Homo sapiens: one gene and its partners. The protein of the gene in region 6 purifies or fractionates together with the protein of the main gene of each other region. This does not show direct contact. Each region holds a gene or a part of one and is shown on either strand. Other genes may lie near its edges. The genes, in order: RRP12, LSM14A, AMH, ATP10B, CAPRIN1, PHACTR3 and KCNK3.

Evidence for each region.
Region 1: the proteins of PHACTR3 (region 6) and RRP12 purify together in Homo sapiens (affinity purification with mass spectrometry; one large-scale study listed by BioGRID and IntAct). This does not show direct contact.
Region 2: the proteins of PHACTR3 (region 6) and LSM14A purify together in Homo sapiens (affinity purification with mass spectrometry; one large-scale study listed by BioGRID and IntAct). This does not show direct contact.
Region 3: the proteins of PHACTR3 (region 6) and AMH purify together in Homo sapiens (affinity purification with mass spectrometry; one large-scale study listed by BioGRID and IntAct). This does not show direct contact.
Region 4: the proteins of PHACTR3 (region 6) and ATP10B purify together in Homo sapiens (affinity purification with mass spectrometry; one large-scale study listed by BioGRID and IntAct). This does not show direct contact.
Region 5: the proteins of PHACTR3 (region 6) and CAPRIN1 purify together in Homo sapiens (affinity purification with mass spectrometry; one large-scale study listed by BioGRID and IntAct). This does not show direct contact.
Region 7: the proteins of PHACTR3 (region 6) and KCNK3 purify together in Homo sapiens (affinity purification with mass spectrometry; one large-scale study listed by BioGRID and IntAct). This does not show direct contact.

The regions. Positions count from the first base shown.
Region 1 is NC_000010.11:97,370,341-97,373,840, forward strand, and holds part of RRP12 (RRP12-like protein), read right to left. Parts: coding exon 3,490-3,500; intron 3,398-3,489; coding exon 3,235-3,397; intron 2,861-3,234; coding exon 2,706-2,860; intron 2,464-2,705; coding exon 2,396-2,463; intron 1,827-2,395; coding exon 1,733-1,826; intron 742-1,732; coding exon 583-741; intron 457-582; coding exon 376-456; intron 221-375; coding exon 115-220; intron 1-114.
Region 2 is NC_000019.10:34,214,004-34,217,503, forward strand, and holds part of LSM14A (protein LSM14 homolog A), read left to right. Parts: intron 1-1,120; coding exon 1,121-1,297; intron 1,298-1,592; coding exon 1,593-1,658; intron 1,659-3,500. UniProt on the Homo sapiens protein: Essential for formation of P-bodies, cytoplasmic structures that provide storage sites for translationally inactive mRNAs and protect them from degradation. Acts as a repressor of mRNA translation. May play a role in mitotic spindle assembly.
Region 3 is NC_000019.10:2,248,005-2,252,122, reverse strand, and holds AMH (muellerian-inhibiting factor preproprotein), read right to left. Parts: upstream 2,801-4,118; 5' UTR 2,791-2,800; coding exon 2,379-2,790; intron 1,787-2,378; coding exon 1,644-1,786; intron 1,485-1,643; exon of another isoform or gene 1,472-1,484; coding exon 1,363-1,471; intron 1,275-1,362; coding exon 1,115-1,274; intron 1,025-1,114; coding exon 166-1,024; 3' UTR 50-165; downstream 1-49. Other genes in the region: SF3A2 (splicing factor 3A subunit 2), read right to left, coding at 3,577-4,118. UniProt on the Homo sapiens protein: Plays an important role in several reproductive functions. Induces Muellerian duct regression during male fetal sexual differentiation. Also plays a role in Leydig cell differentiation and function.
Region 4 is NC_000005.10:160,618,212-160,621,711, forward strand, and holds part of ATP10B (phospholipid-transporting ATPase VB), read right to left. Parts: intron 2,740-3,500; coding exon 2,136-2,739; intron 1-2,135. UniProt on the Homo sapiens protein: Catalytic component of a P4-ATPase flippase complex, which catalyzes the hydrolysis of ATP coupled to the transport of glucosylceramide (GlcCer) from the outer to the inner leaflet of lysosome membranes.
Region 5 is NC_000011.10:34,093,231-34,096,730, reverse strand, and holds part of CAPRIN1 (caprin-1), read right to left. Parts: intron 253-3,500; coding exon 58-252; intron 1-57. UniProt on the Homo sapiens protein: mRNA-binding protein that acts as a regulator of mRNAs transport, translation and/or stability, and which is involved in neurogenesis, synaptic plasticity in neurons and cell proliferation and migration in multiple cell types.
Region 6 is NC_000020.11:59,768,540-59,772,039, reverse strand, and holds part of PHACTR3 (phosphatase and actin regulator 3), read right to left. Parts: intron 1-3,500.
Region 7 is NC_000002.12:26,691,240-26,695,521, forward strand, and holds the start of KCNK3 (potassium channel subfamily K member 3), read left to right. Parts: upstream 1-1,482; 5' UTR 1,483-1,636; coding exon 1,637-1,919; intron 1,920-4,282. UniProt on the Homo sapiens protein: K(+) channel that conducts voltage-dependent outward rectifying currents upon membrane depolarization. Voltage sensing is coupled to K(+) electrochemical gradient in an 'ion flux gating' mode where outward but not inward ion flow opens the gate.

The DNA of each region.
Region 1 (3,500 bases), on a different chromosome or scaffold from region 6:
GAGGAGCAGCCTGCCCAGGGCCAGGGCACAGAGCTCTCCCCACCTTTTTTGAGGGGTGCTTCCCCCCACCCAGTCTATGAGCAGAGTGTCCACCCCCAGCCCCCTGGGCCTCACCTTCCTGGTTCGAGCCAAACCTTAGGAAAGCATGGCCCATCTCCACGAGCAGTGCAAAAGCGTTCTTCCGTGCGCCCACCGACACCTCCTTGGTGCACAGGATCACCTGGCCAAGACAACTCCATCAGCATCTGCTCCCTGAGCCATCTGCCCGGGAAGCGAATCGAGTCCTCCCACTCCCATCACTGCCCTCCCTGGATCCTGAGGCCCTTAAGAGCCACATTCCAGGGACCCCCCTCTAAAACACACCCGCACACTCACCTCTGGGATGAGGGCAGTGATGAACTCCTTGTGTTCAGCTGAGAGCTTCCTCACGATGTGTAGGAGGCACTTCAAACGGGGCTGTGGGCAAAGGGCTACCAGTCAGGACCCCTCAATGCTACCTCCACCCAACAAGCCTCAACAGTGGCTCCTTTCCTGGTGTTGCCCAGGCTCCCTCGGCAGAGCGGGTGGCCCTAGAGCCCTCACCCTCTTGGCGGGTGAGGAGGTGCTCCGCAGCGAGTCCAGCAGTGTCTTCTTCAGGTCCTCCAGGTGGCTCTGCACGAAGAGGGCCCCGGGGCCCTGAGGACTGGCACACACCTCCTCCAGCACTCGGTAGGCCTTCTTCTGCACCCCGTGGGCCTTGCTCTGGCAGACAGGAACCGGTGAGGGAGGCCTGGGGCTCACTCCCTGTCCAATGCTATCCACGGAGCATCCCCCAGCACTGGAGGGATTCTGAGCAGGGGTCCGTGGGGGCTCATGTGGCTTGACAGAGGACCAGTGGAATGTGGACAGCGAGTGGCTAACTCCTGGGCGAGGCACAGGGGTTGGGGGTGTGTGCCGTGGGGCCCACCAATCCACTCCACTCACCCAGCTCTGGACAGTGCTCACTCCAGTGGCCTGAGCTCATGGTGCCTGGCACGCGCCAAGGCCTGCACATCTGCTGCTCTTTCTAGCCGGAGCACTCTTCTCTCTCCTTCCAAGACTGACAACTCCTTGCTCCTCCAAACCAGCTCTCTGTCACACTCCCCCAACCCCCAACGCCGGACACCTTTCCTGAGGTGACGTGGCCTGGCCCTGGATTTCCATGTCCACCTGCAGTGCTGCCCCAGAGCACTTCTCACACTGTTAGGTAACTGCTACTAAACTGTGGCAATGGGGGCAGCTTTCAGGGGGTCACTGCTGGGCTGAGATCTGCAGGGTTGCTGGCCACAGCAGAGGGCATTTCAAGCTGAGGACCCAAACCCTGCAAAGGCACAGACAGGGCCTGTTATATCAGGGAGGCTTAAGGCAGCTGAAGGAGGCTGCAGCAGAAGTAGAGAGTGGACTGGGTGGGATAAAGCTCAGGCCGGTCTGGGATGGGCCTGGGGAGTGAGCCAGGCAAAGGAGCATGGCCTTGGTTCTACAAGAGTCACTCAGCACGCAAGGCCTAAGCACAGCTGTGCATTTCAGTCCCTTTGGGACCTGCAAGACAGATGGGCTACACAGGACACAAAGAGAAGCCACTGCAGGAGAAAGCAGACAGGGACCTGATCTCGGGAAGCAGCAAGGGACAAAGACATGAAGACAGGCCCCACCTTCCCACAGCCCATCTGCCCCCAAGCGTGGCTGTGTGGCGCTCCTGGCCCCCGAGGCTCACCTCTAGGTAGGGCCGGATGGTGGAGTATAGCTTACTGATGGCAGCTTCGTCAGCACACGGAGCCAAGGCCACGACCAGGTCCAGGACAGACAATCTGCTCGGGGCAGGAGGACAAGGAGAGGGATGGGGAGCTGGAGAAGGGCGCAGACTACCAGTGTTCTTACGTCTACTGGGTATGGGGAGGTGGGAGAAGTCAGGGTGAGGACAAGGGGCTTGAAGGAGCTCATGAACAATAATAATAGCTAGTACCTAACTGAGCATTCATGATGTACCAGTCACCGTTCCTGGTGTTTTACACCTGCTAACTCCTTCAATCCTCATAGCAACCTTGTTGCAAGAACTATTATCGTGCCCATTTTACAGATGAGGCCTTAGAGGCAGAATGGATAAGTAATTTGTCCAAGGTCACACAGCCCATGAGTGACGGGGCTGGGATCAGAACCTGGGCAGTGTATCTCCTGGGTCCTTGTTCCTCCCTACCAGACTAAATGGCCTCTCCAGGAAGAAGGAACTAGTCAGCACAGCCTCTCAGCACAGCCTGGAGAGTTAATACTTCAAGGCTTCCTTAAATAATGCAAGAGGGAACCCACAGTGCTTCTGCCAGATGCACCCTCCAGCTCCCTGGGCTGCTCCAGCTCAAGTGGGAGGCCCTGAGCATGTTACCTGGTAAAGTCAGAGCTGGCAGGGTCGAGCACCTTCTCACTGGCTTTTTCCAGGAGACTGTTCACCAACTTGTGGCCCCGAGGGAATGAGGAGAAGAGAGTCATTGGGGAGGAGCGAAAGAAAGCAGCAATGGCAGCAGTCCCAGAGCGGCCTCCCCATCAGCCCCCAGCCCTGCCCAAGCCATGACTGCTGGTATGTGCTCCAAAACACAGAGACCCACGTGAGCCCTGGTGGGTAGGGTCTCGGCCTCTCTGACCCTGCCCACCTGAGAGCTCCCCTCCTCCCTCCTTCCCTCCCTTCCGTGGCTCACCTGAGTGTCAGTGATGGTGAGGTAAGTTCTGATGGTTTCCAGCACAGCCCGGCGAGGGGCTGGAGTGTCCCCGGCTGCCACGGGCTGCCCATACAGGTTGAAGAGGATCGGCAGAAAGTTCTTGGCAAAGCGACTCACTTCAGCACGGTCAGCCTCTGGTAAAAGGATCAAAGTTTGCACTAAAGGCACAGGAGCTGACTGTGCCTCAGTGGCTGCTGGGGCTGTGGCCCAGAGGCCCTCTCTTGGGGGAGCTGGCAGGACTTGGAATCCATGGGTTTGGGGCTCTCTGTGGCAGAAGCTGAGCCAGGGCATGGAGAGCCTGGTGCCCCAGTGGCCCATGGTCCTCGATGGCTCCAACCCCAGGGAGCCAGCAAAGTTATCCCCTGGGGTCTGCAGCAGAAGCAGCAAAGGATGAGCTCCAGAGGTGAGTTTCTGTGGCTCTGCCTGGCAAGGAGTGTAGCAAGCCAGGGGATGGGGCCAGGGACCTGTGTCATCCTCCCCAGCCCCCACTCCCACAGCCCACACGTACCTGCCTGGCAGCCCTTGGTGATGAGGGTGCGCAGGGCCTGGCACACGGTGACCCTCAGGTCTGGACGCTCGCTGATGGCCATGCCCAGCGTCCGTGCCAGCCCTTTGAAGGAGATGGCCACATCTGTAGGCCTTGTGCAGAACCCAGGCAGGAGTGTCCACATCTGGAGAAGGAGGGGACAATAAAGGAAGGTGACACGCAGCCACCTGTGCCCCTGTGTGCTTCTCCCCACGCCCTCCCCCAGCTGACCCTTACCTGCCACTGGA
Region 2 (3,500 bases), on a different chromosome or scaffold from region 6:
AACTCCTGAGCTCAAGCGATCTGCCCATCTCAGCCTCCCAAATTGCTGGGATTATAGGTGTGAGCAACCGCGCCCAGCCAAACCCCATATTAAGCAAAAACTTGCCAAGAGATCTTTTAAAAGGCAAGGAATGAGTATGGCTACTGTGTAATTATCTGAAGGGTTTTTTTTGTTTGTTTTTTGGTTTTGTTTGTTTGTTTTTTTGCTGGCCTTTTAGTTTTTATGTTTAATTACCCAAGCCCCTAAAGCATTAAAGAACTTCACCTATCTAACTTTGTAGTTCTTTTACTTTATTTATTTATTTATTTATTTATTTATTTATTTATGAGACAGGGCCTTGCTCTGTCACCTAGGCTAGAGTGCAGTGGCACAATCTCGGCTCACTGCAGCTTCTGCCTCCCGGGTTCAAGCTATCCCATCTCAGCCTCCTGAGTAGCTGGGAACACAGGCACGCGCCACCACGCCTGGCTAATTTTTGTATTTTCAGTAGAGACAGGGTTTCGCCATGTTGCCTAGGCTGGTCTTGAAATCCTGGGCTCAAGCGATCCTCCTGCTTCAGCCTCCCAAAGGACTAGGATTACAGGCATATGCCACTGCGCCCGGCCCTTTACTTTCTTATAATAGAAATTTAATGGAGTTAATACCTGTAGATAGATGTAAAGGTATTGTTTTAGTCATCTACAGAAAGTACTAAGAAAGATTAAAACAAGTCACCATAGTCTTATGGTTGTCATTGGCGAAAGCCTGTGTTTGACCTGACTACAACATGATAATTTGTAGGATAATTCTAGGGAATCTCGTACCTGGCAGCAATTTTTTTTTTTTTTTTTGATGTAAACTCTTCCACTAAGTAGAAATAACAGATAAAATTGTGAGGGGGAGGGAGTTGTTTTGAAGCTGTTGAAGTTTTTTTTTAAATTATTATTATTTTTTATTTTTAACCTAATGACAAGCCCACTAAGGATACCATTCTTAATATCTGGTCTGATAAGTGGATTAATTCAAATTTGTGCTAAGGGTTTGAATTGATAGAAATAAAACTCTGGACAATTTTTTTTAGGGTCTAGATTATTTTGAAATCCCCAATAGGGTAGTTTGTTATCTTTTGGTTACATTTTAGGTCGCTCAAGCCCTCAGTTAGACCCTTTGAGAAAAAGCCCAACCATGGAACAAGCAGTGCAGACCGCCTCAGCCCACTTACCTGCTCCAGCAGCTGTTGGGAGAAGGAGTCCTGTATCAACCAGGCCTTTGCCATCTGCCAGCCAAAAGGCAGGAGAGAATCAGGAGCACAGGCGAGGTAGAACTTTAGCTGTTTACTGTTCCTTAATTGACTGATCAATGTTTTCCACTCACTTTATTTTCATTAGAAGGATTTACTTCATGTGAATGATCCCAGAAAATTAAACTGAATATGATAGAATGTTTGGTCTTTCAAATTTGACTCAAAGTGGTGGTGGTGTGGGTATAGTTTTTTGGGCATTGCACAGGCTTTGTTTTGGGTTTTTTGGTTTGTTTGTTTGCATTTCTAACTATGGAAGTTTTTGATGATGTACCCTGAGTTGATTTGGCACTTTGCATGTCTTCTTCTGTAGCTGAAGTACACAAAGTTTCAAGGCCAGAAAATGAGCAACTCAGAAATGATAACAAGAGACAAGTAGGTAAGTTCTTGGATCTAAAAGTCATATTCTATGCTTCTCAACAGGGAGAATATTTTAAATATATGATACATAATTACTATAAAAAAATGAAAGGCGGGGGTTGTGACTGTAAAGGAGGAGCACAGGGGAGTGTCACTGTGGTGACAGAACAGTCCTTTATCTTGATTGTGGTGGTAGTTTTGCAAATCTATATATGGTAGAACATCATAGAACTATGCATAAAGACATACCAAAAAATGAGTACATGTACAAACTGGTGACATCTGAGCAAGGTCTGTAGTTTAGTTAATTAGATTGTGCCTGTGTCGGTTTCTTGGTTTCGATAATGTACCATAATTATATAAGATGTGACTGTTGGAGTTTGGGAAGTTGGGTGATGGGCACAAGGGACGACTCTGAACTAGTTTTTCAATTTTTCTTTTCTATAATTACTTTAAAATAAAAAGATTTTTTAAAATTTTACTTTTCTGGGCCCGGCACAGTGGCTCACGCCTGTAATTCCAGCACTTTGGGAGGCCGGGGCGGGCGGATCACGAGGTCAGGAGCTCGAGACCAGCCTGGCTAACATGGTGAAACCCCGTCTCCACTAAAAATACAAAAAATTAGCCGGGCGCAGTGGCGGGCGCCTGTAGTCCCAGCTACTCAGGAGGCTGAGGCAGGAGAATGGCGTGAACTGGGGAGGTGGAGCTTGCAGTGAGCCGAGATTGCTCCACTGCACTCCAGCCTAGGCGACAGAGCCAGACTCTGTCTCAAAAAAAAAAAAATTTTACTTTTCTGGAAAAAAATTCTACTTAGTGGTAGGCCTTTTTTTTTCTGAGATGGAGTTTCACTCTTGTTACCCAGGCTGTAGTGCAGTGGTGTGATCTCAGCTCACGGCAGCCTCCGCCTCCCGGGTTCAAGTAATTCTCCTGCCTCAGCCTCCCTAGTAGCTGGGATTACAGCCGCGTGCCACCATACCCAGCTAATTTTTGTATTTTTAGTAGAAACAGGGCTTTGCCATGTTGGCCAGGCTGGCCTCAAACTCCTGACCTTATTTTCCACCCACCTCAGCCTCCCGAAGTATTGGGATTATAGGCGTGAGCCACCGCACCCAGCCAGGCAGTTATCTTTTAATATGTTCTTGAGTATTTCCTGCTAGAAGGATTTGTTCGTTTATATTTACATTTTCCTATGGCTTCTACTTTTGTGGTTTTTATGTTTTGTGTCAGTTTCAAGTTAGGATTATAAAATTGGTTTTCATTGTTTTCTATGCCTTTGGGAATGGAATTTTCTTCATGTTACAAGTTTGAAACGTTTCCTCATTAAAATTAAGCCCAGAGGCCAGGCACGGTGGCTCACACCTGTAATCTCAGCACTTTGGGACGCCGAGGCGGGCAGGTCACGAGGTCAGGAGTTTGAGATCAGCCTGGCCATACGGTGAAACCCTGTCTCTACTAAAAATAGAAAAATTAGCTGGGTGTGGTGGCACACGCCTGTAGTCCCAGCTGCTCGGGAGGCTGAGGCAGGAGAATCACTTGAACCCGGGAGGCGAGGTTGTAGTGAGCCAAGATCGTACCACTGCACTCCAGCCTGGGCAACAGAGCGAGAGTCTGTCAAAAAAAAAAAAAAAAAAAAATTGAGCCCAGATCCTGTTTTTGAATCAGTTGTTTAAGAGCTGTAGTTTTCTTTTATGATTATTGATTTAATAAGGTTTTATATTTTCTTTATCTGTTTTGTAATATATAACATTCTAAAATCATTCATTTTATTAATATTTTCAAATTTATTAATGGAAAATAAATTATAATTTTACAACTCTTCTAAATTAAAAAGGGAATGTATAATCTACCTTATTTAGAAAAT
Region 3 (4,118 bases), on a different chromosome or scaffold from region 6:
AGACGGCAAGGGAGGTCCCACGGGCCCCCTAACACGCACGGACACCCCAGCCGGTTGCTTGCTGGTCTTTATTGGGGCGATGCTTGGGGTCCGAATAAATATGGGAAGGGGCGCGAGCTGGGGCGCGTCCGGACCCTCGGGGCAGGAGTCCGCGCGGCGCAGGGGTCACCGGCAGCCACACTCGGTGGCCACCATGTTGGGCACGTGGTGCGCGCTGATGCGCTCCTCCGACAGGCTGATGAGCAGCTTGCCCGCGTAGGCGGTGGGCACGCAGCAGGGTGGGCGCGCCAGGGCGGCCCCACGGACCTGCATCTTCAGCAGCAGCACCACGTGGTTGCCGTAGCGCGGGTTGCGGTCGGACTGAGGCCAGCCGCACACGCCCTGGCAATTGTTGGCCTGGTAGGTCTCGGGGATGAGTACGGAGCGCTCGGCGCGGAGGTCTACGCTGAGCTCGCGCAGCGCGCACGGCCCGTCGGCGGCGGTGGCCCCCGCGCTGCGCTGTGCCCGACCCGGCCCGCGCGGATCCCGCCCGCGCCACTCCACGCGCAGGCCCTGCAGCGCCTTCAGGAGCAGCAGCGCTCGCAGGGGATCGCCGAGGCCGCCGGGGCCACCTGGGCAGAGCGCGAGCAGGCGCGCCAGCAGCGGGGCTGTGGCCGGAGGCAGACCCGGGAGGCTTCGCAGCTCGGCAGCCGCCGCTTGCAGTTCAGCAGCCACGCGGCGCGCCAGGGCCGTGGCCCACGGCGCCGACGTGGGGTCGTGCAGGGGCGCAGGATCCCCGGTGGTGGCCGCAGTGGGCCTCAGCAGCAGCAGCAGCGGCTCCTCGCCGTCGAGTAGGCGCTCCAGCGCCGCGGGGTCCGACAGGTTGACTAGGCCCTGCGGGAAGCCGGCCAGCGCGTCCGGATCCAGGGCCAGGCGCGGCGCGGAGGCCCGGGCCGGGGGGACCCGCAGCGCCCGCACCAGGCGCGTGAGCGTCTCCAGGAAGGGGTCTGCGCTGGGTGGCGACTCCTCGAGTTCCGCGGATGGCCTGGAACCCGCAATTGGAGGAGTTGAGAGCGGCCACGAGGCCACGCCGCCCCCGCCCGCTCCTGCCCCGTGTCCCGGTGCCTGCGCGCACCTGGGCGGCGGGAAGGGCACGGTGTCCAGCTGGCCGTGCGCAGGCAGCGGCGCGGGCTCGGACCGCGGCAGCAGGAGCAGGGCCGGGGTCATCCGTGTGAAGCAGCGGTGGTCGTCGCCGAACAGCAGTGCCTGCAGCCGGGCGGTACTCAGCCGGGAGTCTGCGGTGGGTGGGCACGCGGCTGGCTCAGGGGCTGGGGGCCCGGGGGCAGTCGACCCGGCTCCCCGTCCCTCTCCACGCGGACCTACCCTCTCCGCGGGGCTGCAGGGTCAAGGCCAGCCCGGAGCCGCGCCAGGCCCCCGCAGGGCGGTCCACCGCTAACACCAGGTAGCGGGTGTCTCGGGAGGGGCAGAGGCTCTGCGGAGACCAGGGCTCAGCCCGGCTGGATGGAGGCTTACCCAGCCCCGCTCTACCGGTCCCCTTCCTCCCATCGCCACTGGTTCTACGCTGTTCTCAGTACTGCAGACCCTGCAACAAATCCATGCCCCCCGCCACGGCCCGGGCACTGCCCCATGCAACTCCCTGGTACCTGGGCACCCGGCAGCCCAGCCCTCGTCACAGTGACCTCAGGGCCAGGCCCAGGGTACAGCACCAGCAGCGCCAGCTCTGGGGGGCCAGCTCCTCCAGGCGGGGGCTCCTGGAACCTCAGCGAGGGTGTTGGCTCCCAGGTCACTGCAGCCGGGACAGCAGGGGACGCCTGAGCCATTGAAGGCCACACCCCCCGGGAATCTTTGGGATCTGTCCCTGCCGCTCTGGCCACTGTGCAGGGGACCTCAAGCGGGGGACAAGGGTGCCCCTCTTAGCTGCCTTCCTGCAGCCAGGGAGCGGTGACGGCAGGGGCAGGCAGGGGCTGCGTCTGAGGCTGTGGGTGGGGCTGCCGCCCTGGGGTCTCTGGGTTGGGGTGCCCGATGAAGCCCCTTCCCCGCAGGGAGTATCTTAGGCCAGCGGCCCTGAGAACAGGCTGGGGCTGTGGGAAGAAGGGTTCCACTGGCCCCGAGCCCTGCGTCGTCTTCAGGGGTGGGGAGAAGGCAGCAGCTCTCTCCCTGGCACCGAGGCAGGGGCAAGTCTAAGAGCTGGGCTTCGGGGACAGGACAGAGTGTGGTGCCCACCTTCCAGGCCACGGACCCGCAACCCAGTCCTAGGAACAAGACCACAGCCTCCCTGCCCAGGGTGGGGGCTCTGCCAGCCCCTGATCTTCCCTAGGAGGACCCGGCCCACCTGAAGGAAGACGGCGGTGCCAAGCTTGGGGCTGGGCCCCACATACCTTCCTCCAGGTGTAGGACCACCAGGCGCTGCCCCCCAGGGTCCCGCAGCCAGGCCCCCAGCCGCCGTAGAGAGGGCAAGGCAGCCTGCCTGTCACCGGTGTTGCAGACCCCGAAGGTGGCCAGGTCTCGGGGGCCCCAGCGGGCCCTCTGCACGGCCCCCAGGAAGGCCTGCTCATAGGCGCTTAGAGCCCCCACCACCCGCAGGGGGGAGCTGCTGCCATTGCTGTCCCCGCCCAGTGCCACCAGGCACAGAGGCTCTTGTGGGCTGCCTGGAGGCCAGTCCAAGTCTTCTCGGAAGATGAGGCCACTGGTGCCCACAGCTGGCTCCTCTGCTCTGAGGGCCTCAGTCCCCAGCAGAGCCCCCAGGGCAGACAGCACTAGGGCCAGGCTGGTGAGAGGCAGGTCCCGCATCGTGGGTGCTGCCAGGGGCTGGGCTGCCTGCCTTAAGTGAGCCGAGTGGAAGGTGGGGTGTTTGTGCAGGACAGACCCCTATCTCCTCTGCCGCGACCTTGGGGGACAGTGCCCGGCGCCCCCACTCCAGGCAGAGTGGCCTTCTCAAAGAGCCCTTTCTGTCCCTGGCAGCCTATCTCCCTCCCCAGTGATAGAGCTGGGCCTGATGTGTCAACATGCCGTCCTTGAGGGCCATCCCCAGAAGACACAGGAGTGGGAACCAGGCTGGGAGTGACGGCCAGGCAACCAAACTAGACAGCGCTGGGGGCGGGGGGCCCAGATGTCCTGGGTGCTGAGGTGTGGGCCTGGAGGAGGAGGGTCCCAAGTCAGTGGGGGCGCCCTGTCCCTGCTCACCCTCCCCACCCCTGGTGGGCTATCTGGAGACCCCAAGGATATCGTGGAGTCTGCTCTTCCCTCCCCAGAACAGGACCCCAGATCCCCTCCTAGCTGGCTGGTGGGGTCTGTCCTCCACCAGGCCATCTCCAAGGTACAGCCATCTCTCAGGCCTCCCACAGGTGTCTCCTGGCGGGCCCCAGGCCCTCCCCAGTCGGCCCAAACTGGGGGATGGTGCTGTGCCTGGCACTCCCACACACACTGACACAGTAGGGCGGCGCTGCGGACATCAGTGCACTCAGGGCTGGGGGAGGCTGTTTAATGAGCGGGGGGCAGTACAAAAGAGCAGCCTTCTCTCAGTGGGAAAAGGCAAGAGCACCTGGCGCTGGGCTTGCTGGGGGAGGGAGCAGCTTCTCAGTTGGTTGGGGGAGGGGGAGGTATGTTCCCTGGGCCTTCGGAGGGAAGTGGGGGCCTCAGCATTGGGGGCATGGGAGTTGGGGGGTGCACCCCAGGATTTGAGGGGTGAACTCCCGGAGGCTGAGGGTGGACCCCAGGAGCCGACGGATGGACCCCGGGAGGTTGGGGGTGGACCCCCGGGGCCTGAGGGTGCATCCCTGGGGCTGGTGGGTGCACCCCTGGGGCCTGAGGGTGAACGGCGGGGGCTGCTGGGTGCACCCCCGGGGCCTGGGGGTGAACCCCCGCTGATGGGGGAGGATGGACCCCTGGGGCTGGTGGGTGAACCCCAGGGGCTGGTGGGTGGACTCCGGGGGCTGGTGGGTGAACCCCGGGGGCTGGAGGGTGGACTCCAGGAGCTGGGGGGTGGACCCCAGAGGTTGGTGGGTGGACCCCAGGGGCTGGGGGATGGACGCCAGGAGCTGGGGGGTGGACGCCAGGAGCTGGGGGATGGACCCCAGATGCAGGGGGATGCACCACTGGGGCCGGGGGGTGGACCCCTG
Region 4 (3,500 bases), on a different chromosome or scaffold from region 6:
GTGCTATGTAAGGAAGGTAGGTGGTCTAAGGTACTGTTCCCAAACAGCTGTTTGCATGAGAACCGCCTGGGAATTTAATAATTGAGATTCTCAGGTCCAGTTAAAGCCCAGCTGAATCAGGGGACTAGAAGTTTGAATCTTTATTGTTACCTAAGGTGTTTTTAGTTGATCTCTGGATGGCCAACTGACTTTGGAAACTGTTCTCTATTTATCATCTTCTCTATCTTCTACTTGAGGTCTTATATCAAATTAGGTCCCAAGACATCTACAAGCCTGGATCTCATTAGCTAAGTTCCTCATTTCATTTGTTTAGCTGAGCTAGGCCTTCTCTCAATGCAAGAAATACGTTTAGAGAAAACATTCTTTTATGCATTTCCTATGAATGTAGTATGAAAAATATGTGTGTTGCTCAAAGTCCCCTTTGTAAAGTTGTACATAAGTTTCTGTCAGAGGTAATTTGTCTTTTTCTCTTGAAATTCCAGTTCCTTTATCTAATTCTATAATAAGAATTTTTCAGCCAAGGTTGGCTGGTGTGGGGTGGGATTGATGCCATCAGCACTTCCTTTATCTAAACTGCCACAGACATCATTTATCAGTCGCTTGTAAAACTGAGCTAGGCTTCAGAATCATTTTTTACCAGGGCTGGATTGAGATTTTTTAAAGGTCCTAAGATTGAACAGAATTTGTATACCTCACCCATCCTTGTATATAATGCAAAATTAAAAATGTAATTCTTAACAGAAAAGTATAATGAAGTCCAACAAAACTCTGATTTTTCCATGATACTACTCCAAGGCTGTTTTTATATAATATAAAACTTGTTTCAAAGATTATTTTCTCATTTTTCAGGTGTTGCTGGCGCCTTAAGCATAGTCTTCATTTGTGCATCGCCTGATTCGGCACTATTTACAATATTTTATTTTTAAAGACACCAGCTCCTGAGATTAAACCTGTTTGTCTTTTACTTGTAAGCCTTGGAGTTTACCTTCTTGCTAAGGCTGCCAGGAACCTCAGCATCAAATTGAACATTTAAACACCATAAATATTATTAAACCTGAGGTCATTTTCTCCCTCCTTTCAAAGTTTTGCTTCTCAATTCTTATAGTAACATTGTGTGTGTGACTTCTATTGAAGGCATCTCTAATCCATTTTTCAATCAGGTGAGGAGCAAATAAAGAGACATCTCCAGGGCAGCTTGGATGACTGGCTGCTGAGGGATAGAGTGCCGTGGCTCCCTTGACTCAGAAGTACTGAATTCACTTGTCTGCCAGAGTCTGGGAATAAAGAGAACTAATTAGCTCCCTTCCCATTCTACACACTAATCAATCCCCATAAACCTCTTGGCCCTGATCCATGGCTGATAATGCAGGAGGCACAGGGCTGCCTGGGCAATTCTGAAGCTTGGCTGGAATCTACTATCCTGGGAGAATCATAGCCCCATAACTGTCTTCTCCTTGTTAGCAATCAGGAAGCGGCTGCACACTAATTCATGCTGTTCCAAAATTGGACACTGATATGTAGGGACTTTGGAACATTTTTCTGGCTCAGTGCACGTTTATGAAAATCCATCTGGGGGAGGCTGGGGAAAAGGATAATAAAGAGGAACACCTGAGGCTTCCCAGAGTACACCAAGCCCAGTGCAGAATTCTGGCAGCATGAAACAAGCTCTGACCTGGAATTCAGGATACCTGGGTCTGGGATTTAACACTAGTTAACCATGTTACCTCTTGTAAGTCACTTTTCTTTCTAAGTTGAGTGTGCTTTTCTCCAAAATGAAGAGTTAGGACCACAATGTGTTCCATGGTAAGATAATGGATGTTCTAGTGCAAAAGACTGTGTGGATAATCCATGTTTAAATGAGTTTGGAAAACTGGGATGAAGTTAAAGATGTTTATCTGCTACAAGACTGTACAGTCTTTAAATATGCTAATGGACACTGTGATTCCCTAGGTCCAGGAGATGTAAAATGCAGCATGTTTTAAGGATATTTGAGGAAAACATCTTGTAGGTCTGTATTCCAGTTGGGACCTGCCATACCAGGTGACACTACAACTTGAGCTTCTTATTACCATTCCACACTGCTTCTTAAACTATAGAACTCTCTGTGCCTGGAACCCTGGTAAGGCAGGACTCACCGCAGGCTGGGTCTTCCAGCAGGTCCATGATGACCGAGTCAGCACCCTTGGTGTAGACAACAATCTCGCCAGTCAGTGGGTGCCTCACAACCACAGACATTCTCTTCCTGACAGAGTCAAAGCCCAGGGTGCAGAGGAGGCTGAAGGTGAGGCAGGTGCCCTGGGGCAGGCGCACAGTCACCTGCTCAGGTGTCCGGGACACTAGTGTGAAGCTGTAGGCATGGGCAGCGTGCACCAGGGCGGCCTCATCAGGGCTCTCAGCCTCGTAACAGAACTCAGGCCTGGCCAGGTCTGTGGCTGGGGCCTCCAATGCCTCCTCCAAGGAAGTGCCTGACCCAGACTCCAGGATGTCGCCCTGGTCCCACATGCTGCTCCTGTAGCCACCGTCATCAGTGGAGTCACCTCCACTGCACACAGATGCATCATCTCTCTCATCCGAGTCTGTGGTGGCCACGTTGGCCCCTAAGCTCTCCCCGAGGTCTGTGTCAGAGGGTGCAGTGGATGAGAATGACTGGCTGAGGCTCAATAGCTTCAACTTCTGGAAGAGCTGCTGAATCTTCTCCAGGGACGTCCCCAGAGCCTTGCTTGAGGGTTTGATGGTGACCTTGTGGCCAAAGAAGGAAAGTGGAATATTACTCTCAATGTTGGAAATAATACCAAGTTGTCTTATGCGGAATATGAAGGTACTTTTGCAATAAGTGAAGCCAGATATTTTCCTCCAGCCCTGAAATTCTAAGCATTGACAATGGTCATTTTCCACTATCTTTTGATCATCCCACTGTGAGCGTGGAGAAAGGAAGGAAAAGGAGATGAGAATCAGAAACTCATAGTAAGGGTTCACATTTCCTGAACTCTCACTATAAATGCTTCTGCTTTATCTTTGAGTGCGGTATCTCATTTCATCCTCCCAATAATTCTGTGGGATGCTATCATCAACCCAACTTATGGCTGAGGACATTGAGGTACAAAAAGTCTACATAAATTGGCCATGATCACCCAGTGTGTAGGGAGTAGAGTTGGAACTCAAACCCAGGTCTCCTCGACTCCAGAGGCTGGGCTCTTGAGCTACCTGCCAGCTGAAGCTCCCAGCCAGCTGAAGCTCCCACATTAACTTGAAAATTGGGAGGTGCCTACTGTCTTTCCCCAAATGGTACTTCTTCCCCTCTTAAAAATGAATTAATTTTTAAGATAAAGCTTTCTGCCTCCAAAAACTTCCTGAAGACTTCTGATAACATGCTGACTTTTCAGTGCTGAAGTGATTTTCAGGGTGGTTTGGAATCTGGGCATAATGAAGGGAGGTTGTGGTTTAGTGCCTGGGTGAAACTTCTTGTCTTGGTTTCATAGTTGCAAGTTGTACCACCTAAT
Region 5 (3,500 bases), on a different chromosome or scaffold from region 6:
CAAAAAATAATTTGAACTAGTAAAAGGTCATTAGAACCTCCTTTTTTATTTTTTTACCTCTGAATCCATTGGCAGGGCCCCGGTATCCATTCATCAAGCCTCTAGCACCACGGGAGCCTCCACGAGACACACCACGACTATTGTAATAGGGCTGATTGCTACGTGGAAATCCAGTGTTCTGCTGAGGAGGCTGCTGGTGGTTACCAGTCACTTGATGGGACTGGTCTGGGGAACCATGGTAAGTGCCAACCACTATAATTTAAAAAAGAAAAAGATATATACATAAACAGCTCATTACCGTTTGTTCTCCCACGCACTTTCTAGTTTAAGAAGTGTCTTATACAGTCTCCTTAAAGTTTAATCCTTAAATTTGCATACAATGATAAGAAAAACTACACATGAATAAAGTCTCTTACCTTTCTCCTACCCTTAGACTCAGCTATTGGGGGTAAAATTCTCCAACCACAATTCCAAACCTTTGAAAGCAGGGTGCATGATTGATCCTTCCAAACAAATTATTTGAAAGGCTATATTAACGTCTTCTGAAAGGCATCTACTTTTTAGCACAAGAGACCCAAAATAACTCAAAAGATTTACTCTTAGTACATTACCATTTTGTACCATTTAATTACTTCTTTTCATTATAAAGCTCCTTAGTGGTAGAAGTTTTCTTATTCTTTTAAATATCCTTTTTTTTACTTAGTAAAACATACAAAACCACTCTCTCATATTTAAGCAGCTAGATGGTAGAATATGTCATCAACTACATAGTTTAATCAGCAGAGGCCTTCGACTTGTAGCCCTTAATGCCAAATTCCATTTCAAAGTATTTAAAATGGCAAGTATAGCCAATTTAGAAAACAATCACATGGTACTCACATTGGCACTCAACCCACTTGAAGGTTCTAGACTAAGGTACACACTAACATATATACAAGCTCCATCCACAATGGACAGAGTTCTAGAATCTAGAAATTTTCAAAAATTCAATACTACAGAACAATGTTTATAATTCAAAGAGGAGAAAAAAATAGGGTGCTAAAAGTACCTTTGGGAGGTGAGGAAGGCAACAGAACAAAGGAAGGCCCACACACTAACAACAAGGGTCAGAAGCTGCTGGCCAACCCAAATCTCCCCTTTTGGGGCAGAGAGAAAAGCAGCTGTATGACTCTTGAAAATCTTTACTTGACCTATTTTACACCCTTAAGAAACTCCAAATACATTAATAGTTGTTAGAATCCTATTTTACGATGAAAGCACTAGGGAATACCTAGAGAAAAAGAGAGAGCCACTGCTCCTCTTGAATTACTTAGTAAACCAACTACATCGGTGTCATCTTTTTACATAGATTGCCTTTTATTATATTCCCAAAATTTAAAATTGTAAGTGAATGACAAATACACATAACATTTTCCTTGTAAAATGGTTCATGTGTATCCATGTACAAAGTAGCCAAAAGAACTGAATTTTAGAATCATTTTATCAATAACAGCTTTTAATCTTGATCAAATCTCACTGTAAGAAATTCATAGCCAGGCTGGGTGTAGTGGCTCACACTGGTAATCCCAGCACTTTGGGAGGCCAAGCTGAGCAGATTACTTGAGCTCAGGAGTTTGAGACCAGCTGGGCAACACAGTGAGACCCCATCTCAACAACAACAACAACAACAAAATACAAAAAATTAGCCAGGCATGGTGGTGCATGCCTGTGGTCCCAGCTACTTGGGAGGCTGAGGTGAGAGGATGGCTTAAGCCTGGAAGGAAGAAGTTGTAGTGAGCCGAGATCGTACCACTGCACTCCAGCCTGGGAGACAAGAGCAAGACTCTGTCTCAAAAAATGAAAGGAAAAAGGAAAGGAAAGAAAGGAAGAAACTCACAGCATAATAACTTAAGTGTGATCTTTATTTTATTTAATTTTCACTTTTAAGACAAGGTCTAGCTCTCTCACCCAGTACTGCTGAGGTTGGAGTTCAGTCAAATAATCTTGGCTCACTGCAACCTTGAACTCCTGGGCTCAAGTGATCCTCCGGCCTTAGCCTCCTGAGTAGCTACAACTACAGGCATTCACCACCTCACCCTGCTAATTTCTGTATTTATTTTATAGAGGTGGGGCTCTGTGTTGCCCAGGCTGGTCTCAAACTCCTGGTCTCAAGTGGGCCTCCCAAAGAGCTGGGATTACAGGCGTGAGCCACCACACCCAGCCTTCATTTTATTTTAAAATACCCAAATTCCTACTTAAATTTTGGTAAAGTATAAACTTGTAGGCCATTTTAAAAAGCCAAAGATTCTGTCATGTTGTTCCTGATTAGACACTAATTCAAAATAAAATTTCTAAAATGATGGGACATACTGAAATGATTTCTTCAACAAATATCAGGCCGGGAATGGTGGCTCACGCCTGTAATCCCAGCACTTTGGAAGGCCGAGGCGGGTGGATCACCTGAGGCCTGAGGCAGGAGGCCGAGGCAGGAGAATCGCTTGAACCCAAGCGATTGAACCTAAGAGGCGGAGGTTGCAGTGAGCCGAGACTGCATCACTGCACTGGACAACGGCCCACAATGTATACATATTATTTCATCATGAACGCCTGGCCTCAAGCAATCCTGCCACCTCAGCCTCAAATGTAGCTGGGATTATAGGTGCCAGCCATGAAGCCCGCCCACAACGGACACACATTTCAACACATCATGCTGTATACCATAAATACACATATATATAGTTTCTACTTCTCAATTAAAAATAAACAAATGAACTTTTTTTAAAAAAATAGAAAAAGCAATCCATGTACTTATCAGTGGGAGAAAGTTTTCGGCAAGAAGGAAAGTAAGTATGAAGGCCCTGAGATTAAAGAGAACTTGCTGCGTATGTGACTGGTGTTCGAGACCAGCCTGGACAATATGGTGAAACCCTCTCTCTACTAAAAATACAAAAAAAAAAAAAATTAGCCAGGCATGGTGGCCTGTGCTACTTGGGAGACTGAGGTAGGAGGATCCCTTGAACCCAGAAGCAGAGGTTACAGTGAGCCATGGTGATCACACCACTAGTTTTTATCATTTGGAAGCTGAGCATAGTATAACTGATAACTTCTATCAGAGTATGGAAGATTCGAGCTTCATATTAGTGATACTGAATACTACAGGATGTGTAAGAATTTACTACTGAAAAATCTAATGCTGATCCAAGTTTACCAAGAAATTGAATAATTAGAAAATTTTACAACTTTTCAAAATCGGGCTGACAAAATGAAAGTATTAACTCCTCTGACTGCTGGTTTGTTGTGGGATTCCAATTAAATTCTGAGGAATTAAAGAACTAAAGAAGACATCATGGTGGCTCATGCCTATAAGGTAGAGGTGGGAGGACTGCTGGAGGCCCTGAGTTTGAGAAAAGCCTGCAGTCCAAGCTACTTGTGGGGAGTTAAAGGCTCCAGTACAGGATTTGAGCCCCAGAGTTAAAGGCTCCAGTATCTGATTACACCACTGCACTCCAACCTGGGCAACA
Region 6 (3,500 bases):
TCAGGAGCCTAGCAGCTGGCACAGGCCCAGAAGCTCTTAGGTGTTCAGCACAAACTCTCATTCCAAAAGCGTCCTGGCAGGACTGGTGCAAACACCAGATCCCTTTAATCCCACCAGCAAAACAACCAGATCTAAACTACCCCATTCCCTAAAAACCAGAAACAAACTTCCAATACAATCCTGGGATGTGGACAGCATCAATAAAAAGTATTCCTCAAAACCCAAAAGGAAACTGTAAACCTCGTGGAGGACTTTAGTTATTTCGCTTTCTCTACAAGCACCTGCTTGGCCACACAAGGCCAGGCCACAGGGAAACGGGCCAGGCCCTGCCGTCAGCTGGTGGAGACAGACAGAGGCCAGGCAGACAGAAAGAGAGCAGATGATTGTAGAATAGAGAAGGAGACAGAAGGAGAGGGAGAGAAAAGGGCTGGGAGAGAGAGTGGTGGAGGGAGGGGGGCGAGAGGGCACCACGCAGGTGGGCTGAGAGTACTGGGCTGGTCGGGGGGAGGTGGTAGCTGGTTTGGGAGAGGGAGGTCAGGAAAGGCTGCTCTGCAGAGGGAAACTTTGAGCTGAGACCTGAGAAATGACAAGGAGCCAGCCATGCAAGAAGTGGCCAGGCAGGGCAGGGGCTGCAGGGAGACCCATCCCCAGCTTCTGCACACTGCGCTGTCCTCTCCCCACTGGCCTCAGCCTCCCCAGGCTGCTCCTGCTCAGGACAGTGCCCCACTCCTGAGCACACGCAGGTGACACGCAGCATCCCCCAGCCCCTCTGTCTCTAACCATCATTGCCTCTACTTCTCACCCCAGCCCCATGAGGAAGGAATCACTAGCCCTCTTGTACAAATAGGGAAACTGAGGCAGCGTGGTTTGCCTGCTCTCGCTCAGCTTGGTGGAGCTGGGATCCCACCCAGGTCTCTGCCCCACTGTCAATCACAGATGTGACAACCAGCACTGCCCCCACGGCCCCCATAGAGCTTTGCCTGGCTCGCCCCACCCAGCTTGTGCAGGGGACCACTTGTCACCCCCATTTCACAGATGAGGAAGCTGAGGTTCAGAAGCCACCTCAGGGGCAGGCTGCCAGGAAAAGGTGGGGGCTGAGAACAGCACATCGCACCCAGCTCCACTTACACTTGGCAGAGGCTGTGGGACTCCCATCCCGCAGAGTTGAGCGTTACCAACTGGACCAGGTGACAGCAGGGGTAAAGGAGAGGTAAAAGGGAGAGGGGTAAACGCATCTCCAGGGACCAGGCAGGTGAAACCCAGGAATGCAAAGGACCTCCTGCAATTTCTCCATGGGGGCAGGGTGGGGACCACAGCACACAGAGGAGAACCTGCCCACCTTAATGGGCCTGTAGTGACTCAGAGGGTGATCAGAGATGAAGACTTTTCAAGAAAGTCCAGGAATTTGGCCTATGAACCAGGAAGCAAGCCCTCATCAGAGACACCAAATCTGCCGGCACCCTGATCTTGGACTTCCAGCCTCTAGAAGAGTGACGAATAAATTTCTGTGGTTTATAAGTCACTCAGATGAACTAAGACACCTGCAGTCCTGCCTTGGGTGGAGACTCAGTTGGGCCAGGGTCCCTCCTGCAGCAAGGGAAGCCCAGGTAAGGAGACTTTCTTCTTTGCTACCATCTAGTGTTCACATGCTGAAGCACATGAACCTTTTCCCAAAGGAAAAGGAAAAAGAGGAACTGAGAAAATTAAATCAAAGTCACCAAAATGTAGTCTGTGCAGGAAGAAGCCAGGCCAGGACCCATAGCTCGGAACTACCCTCCTCCACCTCCCAGTCTCAATTCAGTCCCTATGGAAACGCATAAGTGTCAGAGTATCCCCTGATGTCCTTGCAACTGAGGGCAGGGCGGAAGCCAGAAGTGTCCGCAGACTGGGGACAGAACGCCAGAATTTAGGGCGTGTGGAGTCAGAATGAAGACCTGTGCCATCTGAGGCTCGACCTTCCCAAGCTTGGGAGAGGCAGGAAACTCTCTGGGTTACCAAGTTATTGAGGGCCAGGAACAAATTATACATTCGCCAGAATAAAATGAGGTGGATGGTGGCTAATTGAATGGACTTTAAATGGTTTTAGGTTTCAATGGAGGAAAAAGGGAGCTATCACAAAGACAATAACAAAATGCAAAGTAGCACAGTTTTGCCTCAAACTTTGTACTGTAATTTATGTGGCCATGTTGCATAAAGACTGAATATTTGGATTCATCTACAGAGATGTAGAAAGATGCAGAAAGCAGACAGACAGGGTTCAGAGCACGCATGCATTCATTCACTCATTCATTCATCCATCCAACCATCATCTGCACTTGCTGAGTGCCTGCTGTATGCCCTGTACTATGCCTGCACTTGGATTTGACAGTGAACACAGACGTGTGGCCGTCTCTCAGGGACTACTGTCTGGGGGGCAGGTGGTTAGAGAGAGGCAAACCATCCAACAGACAAGGCGTGTATGGCTCCTTGGGCAGCCCAAAGCAACAGAACAACTCTCACAGTTTTGGAGACCAGAAGTCTGAAATCAAGATGCTGGCAGCGTTGGTTCCTTCTGAGGCTGTGAGGGAGATGCCGTCCCAGGCCTCTCCCCCGGAAAATTCTTGGCGTTCTGTGGATGCATCAGTCCCATCCCTGTGTGTCCTGTCCTGCCTGTCACATGGACACTGTCATTGGATTCAGGGCCTAACCGAATCCAGCATGAGCTCAGCTTGATCTTTAACTTAATGGCAGTTGAGAGACCCTTATTCCAAACAAGGTCATGTTCTGAGGTTCCAGGTGGATGGGAATTTTGGGGTGACACCATTCAACCCACTAAACAAGGTGGGGCAATGTGGTAAATGCTGGAAGATGGGGCGCATGGTGCTATGAGGTCAAGGGTCAGGGCTGGCTCCCCTGGAGGAGAAACAGCTTGAGCTGTGGTCCCAAGCATGCAAAGGTACTGACCAGGCAAAGCAGGAAGGGAGAATGTTCTGTCAGGGAGAACAGCTGGGGCCAAGTCTCAGGGTGGTGGGGTGGCGGGGGCGCCCCCTCACTCATCCCTCCACCCACCCAGCAGCACATTCTCCCACAAACCAATACTACTTGGGGAACCACAGGGCACCACAGCCCCACATCTAACCCATCCAGGACATCTGCAGTCCCAGCTAAAGAGGCCCCCTGTGGGGTGCATCTCACCTCCTCCGTTTCTGTGGTATCTGGCTGAGAATCATCAGTTAGACTGGAATACTTAATTCGTGTTAGGTGTACAAGGAAAATGCCCCACTGAAAGCATTTTCCACCCAAGAGTCCCCTCCAGATTGAACATTCACCCCATAAGGGGCAGTAAGGTCCCCAGAAAAGAGCCAAGGGCTGGGACCCAGCCCTCCCGAGCTCATGCCCGGGCTCTCCTTGTCTCAGCAGCTGACACCTCTTCCAAAAGGTGGCAGTTCCCTCTTTCATGAAAACTGGGAAGAAGCACAATGAGGATTAGGTGAGATCGCAGAGGGGAGGGCACCAGCCCC
Region 7 (4,282 bases), on a different chromosome or scaffold from region 6:
GTCCGGCAGTGACAGGTCAGCCCAGCCTGTGGGTAGACAGTGCTCCAGCTTCTGGCTGACTGCCTCCTGAGTCTGCTCTCAGTCAGGGGCCTTGGTGTCTCTTCCCTGTCTCTCTGCCTGGCCCATGCCAGGGTCCTGTGAAGGACTTTTTAACCCTTCTTGGCACTGAGATTTGCATTCCAATCATTCTGCTCACTCAGCCCATCCAAGTCTGGAGTTGTTTAGAGCTGGGCAAGGCCTGTGGGATCATCTGCTACGACACCTCGTTGAAAAGATAAGGAAACAAGGCTCTGAGAGGGTCAGTAATGCCTGAGTTTCCACTACCCTTCCCACCTCACCACCATAGCCACCATGTTTGACAAATGAAGAAACTGAGGCATAGGGACCCCCTCTCCTGCCCCAGTTCCCGCAGTCTGCCAGTGAGCCTCCTGCTCTGGGCCCCACCTGCCCAATTCCAGCTAGATCCCGGTTCTGCTGGGATGCCCTAAGGTGGTGGCAGGTGCTATCTCTGGCAACTCAGCCTAAGCCCAGCCTGGTGCACGGGTGCAAGACAGGAACCATGGGAGTCGGGACAGCCTAGAAGCCCCTGGGAGCGAAGCAGGAGGCCTAGACTCCCAGCCTGTGCCTTCTCAGCCAGTTCCAAGAACTGTGCTGACCTGGGAAGGCACACATTGCCTGAGAACAGGGCTTTCCCTTGGGTGTCAGCTCATGTGTGCCCAGGTCCACAGCTGGGCCCTGCCTGCTTCCAAGACAGCCAGAGTCTGGCCCAAGGGAGGAAGGAGTGTGGCCTGGGAGGAAGGAACGCTTGGCTGAGTCCCAGTGCTGTCACGAAATCACTGCGTGCCCATGCGTGTCACTTGACCTCTCTGGGCCTCCATTTCCTCATCCATAGGATAAGGGCAGGACAGCGAGGCCCCAAGTGCCTCCTGGCTGCAATATGCTGTGATGAGGGTGGAGGGTGGGGTGGGGAGGGGCTCGCTCTGCCTTCCTTGCCTTCCTGTCTGTTTCTCTGTCATTAGTTTATCTCCAGCAATCCAGGCCTCTCTGTCTCAGTCTGTTGCTCTCTCTGTTTCCATCTTTTGCTCTGTATTTTTCTGCCCGCCTCTCTTCTTTTTCTGTCTGAGTGCACCTCTGATTTTATCTCCTCCTCTGTCACACAGCCCCCTTCCCTCAGTCCTACACTGCCTTTCTCCCATTCTCCGTAGTTATCAGCGTTTCGCTGTCTAGTTTTCTCTGTCTCTCGGGCTCGCTCTCTCTCTCTTTCTCTCTCTCTGTCCTGCCCGGGCTCTCTCGCGGCCGCCCCTCCCGTCCCCTCCGCCAGCCCCCCTCCTCCCTCCTCGGCGCGTCTCCCCAGTCCTTATTTGGCTGGGCGGGAGGGCTGGCGGGAGGAGGCGGCCTGCGGGCGGGGGGCGGGGGGCGGGCGCGGGGCCGGGCGGAGGAGGGCGGTGGGTGGTGCTGAAGGGACAGCTCCGCGGCGGCGGCGGCGGCGGCGGCCCCGGGCGCTGAGCGGGTGCCCGGCGCGGAGAGCGGCGAGCGCAGCCATGCCCCAGGCCGCCTCCGGGGCAGCAGCAGCGGCGGCCGGGGCCGAGGCGCGGGCCGGGGGCGCCGGGGGGCCGGCGGCGGCCCGGGCGGGACGATGAAGCGGCAGAACGTGCGCACGCTGGCGCTCATCGTGTGCACCTTCACCTACCTGCTGGTGGGCGCCGCGGTCTTCGACGCGCTGGAGTCGGAGCCCGAGCTGATCGAGCGGCAGCGGCTGGAGCTGCGGCAGCAGGAGCTGCGGGCGCGCTACAACCTCAGCCAGGGCGGCTACGAGGAGCTGGAGCGCGTCGTGCTGCGCCTCAAGCCGCACAAGGCCGGCGTGCAGTGGCGCTTCGCCGGCTCCTTCTACTTCGCCATCACCGTCATCACCACCATCGGTAACGGCTCGCCGGGCGGGGGGCGGGAACCCAGGGCTGGGCGCGGGGCTCCGGGAGTCGTCCGGGGCCGGCTGGGGCTGGGGGCGGGGGCTCCCCCGAGAGGGGCTGGGCGCCGAACCCTGCGCTCGCAGAAACCCGAGTTCAGCCTGGCGTGTGTGCTCCGCGGGGACGGAACTCGGGGAGGCGTCGATTCCTGGCTCCGGACCTGACTCTCCGGCCGGGCCAGCCCTAACTTGGCCCTGCCATGTTGCATAGGCCCCCAGGGACTCCGAAGTGTGTGAGAGGGGCAGGGACGACCGGCGGAGGCTCGGGCAGGAGGGGTGTGGCCGGGCCAGGCCCTGAACAGGGCGCTGAGAGTGAGCGGCGGGAGAGCGCCAGTGCTCCGTATCCCTGAGGATCGGCTTCCACAGCCTAGCAGGTCTACACCTGCTGGGCTCTGGGGAGGCATGAGGATGTCGGAATGCGGCACTTCGGGGCACTTGGGGCCACCCTATAACGGCGGCTGTGAGTGTACGTGTGTCTGCGTGTTTCAGCTCCAGGAGTTTGGTCGCCACCAGTCAGTGCCTGTGATTTTCTCAGAGCGGCAGAATTGGTGCGGGAAGCCAGATCTGGCCTTGTCAGCCTTCTTCTCTGCTGTCCCAGCAAAACAGTCACCTCACAGGAATAACCCCAGTTCTTTCCAAGCCAGGGCAGATCACCATGTAGGAGGCCACACGTACACCCAGACTGTCAGACAACACAGGCATAGGCACACATGCACACAGATACACACAGGCACTCACAGGGTACACACAGGGCGGGCACACACACACACACACACAGAGAGAGAGACAGAGAGAGAGAGAGAGAACAAACGTTGCCCAGGAAAGGAATCTCTAGCCAGGCCCTTGGTGGTGCTATTCAAAACTGTCCAGACGGGAATAACACCTTACCTGTCCCCAACACCCTATGATTTCAGCCCAGCTCCATCACTACCGTGATATATGACCTTGGGCAAGTCCCTTCCCCTGTCTGGGTCTCAGGCTCACCTCCAGACAAGGAGGGGTGGCCAAAATGATCTCAAGAGCTCCTCCCCAGCCCCGACGTGCTTGGATTCTGAGATGAAACCCACCTTCCCCCAAAGCCCATTGAGATGCCTCCAGAAGCAGTTTCCTCTGTCTTTACTGTTCCCTCTCCTCTCCCTAGTCCCCTTCCCTGCCTTGATCAGACTCCCAGGGGTTCGTTGCCACTTAGCGCAGCCCATGAAGATGGCATTGTTTTCCTGGGAGTCAACAGGAGCTGAGGGAGTAAAAGGCAGGACTAGACACTCTTCCTGCGGTCTATCCACTGCAGGACACTGTTCCAAGAATCTACGGCTCCCTGGGGACCATGGGGAGCTATGCTGTGTCGTTTCTGGATTCTTCTCTTGGAAGAGGGAGGAAAGGGCCCTGGGAGTGGATGTGGCCCAGCTGGGGCACCTCTGGGTCCTACTGGTCCTGTGAGTTTAGGATAGGATGATCAGACTTAGGTCTGCCCAAAGAGGAGCCCGCTTCCTGAAAAACACCAGCCCAGATTTGGTCTGCAGTCTCTTCCACTCTCACACCCCACTACTATTTGCCAGGGTTTCAGTAGCTGTTTAGCTGTCTGGAGAATCAAAAGAATCAGACTGAACATCTTTGGACCCTCTCTCTCCCTCTTTTCCACACGTCAAGCCTTCACGCGTGTCCCCTTTCCTTCTCAGGCCCATGGTCCCCAGCTTCATAGTAACCTCCCAACTGACCTCCCTGCCTACCCCACAACAAGGCATGCTCCCCTGGACAATGCTGCCAGAAAGAAAAACTCAGCTGTCACCAAACCAATTCCCTTCTTGGAATCCCTCAATGACTCTCCACTGTCCATGGAATCTGGTCTATGCTCCTTATCTCAAATTTTGAGGATCTCCATACCTGGCTCCAACCTCTATGTCTGACTTCACATCTCACTTCTTACTTATGTGATCCCTCTCGATAGCTGCCAACCTGTCCTCTGAGAATACCTTAAGTATGCCTGTCTGGCATGCCTTTTTCTCTGCCCTTTTTCTTTTCTTTTTTCTTTTTTTGAGAGAAAGAGTCTCACTCTGTCTCACCCAGGCTGGAATGCAGTGGTGTAATCATAGTTCAGCACAACCTCAAACCCCTGGCCTCAAGCGATCCTCTCACCTGGGCCTCCCAAAGTGCTGGGATTACAGGTGTGAGCCACTGCGCCTGGCTCTACCTTCTATTTATCTTGTCCATGCTAACCTTCCAGGTCCAGCTCAAATCCCCCCTCCTCCTCAAAGCCTCCCAGGCCACTGCTCTGGACAACTGCAGGTCTCACTGTGAGGATGATCTGGGTGACACGCTGTT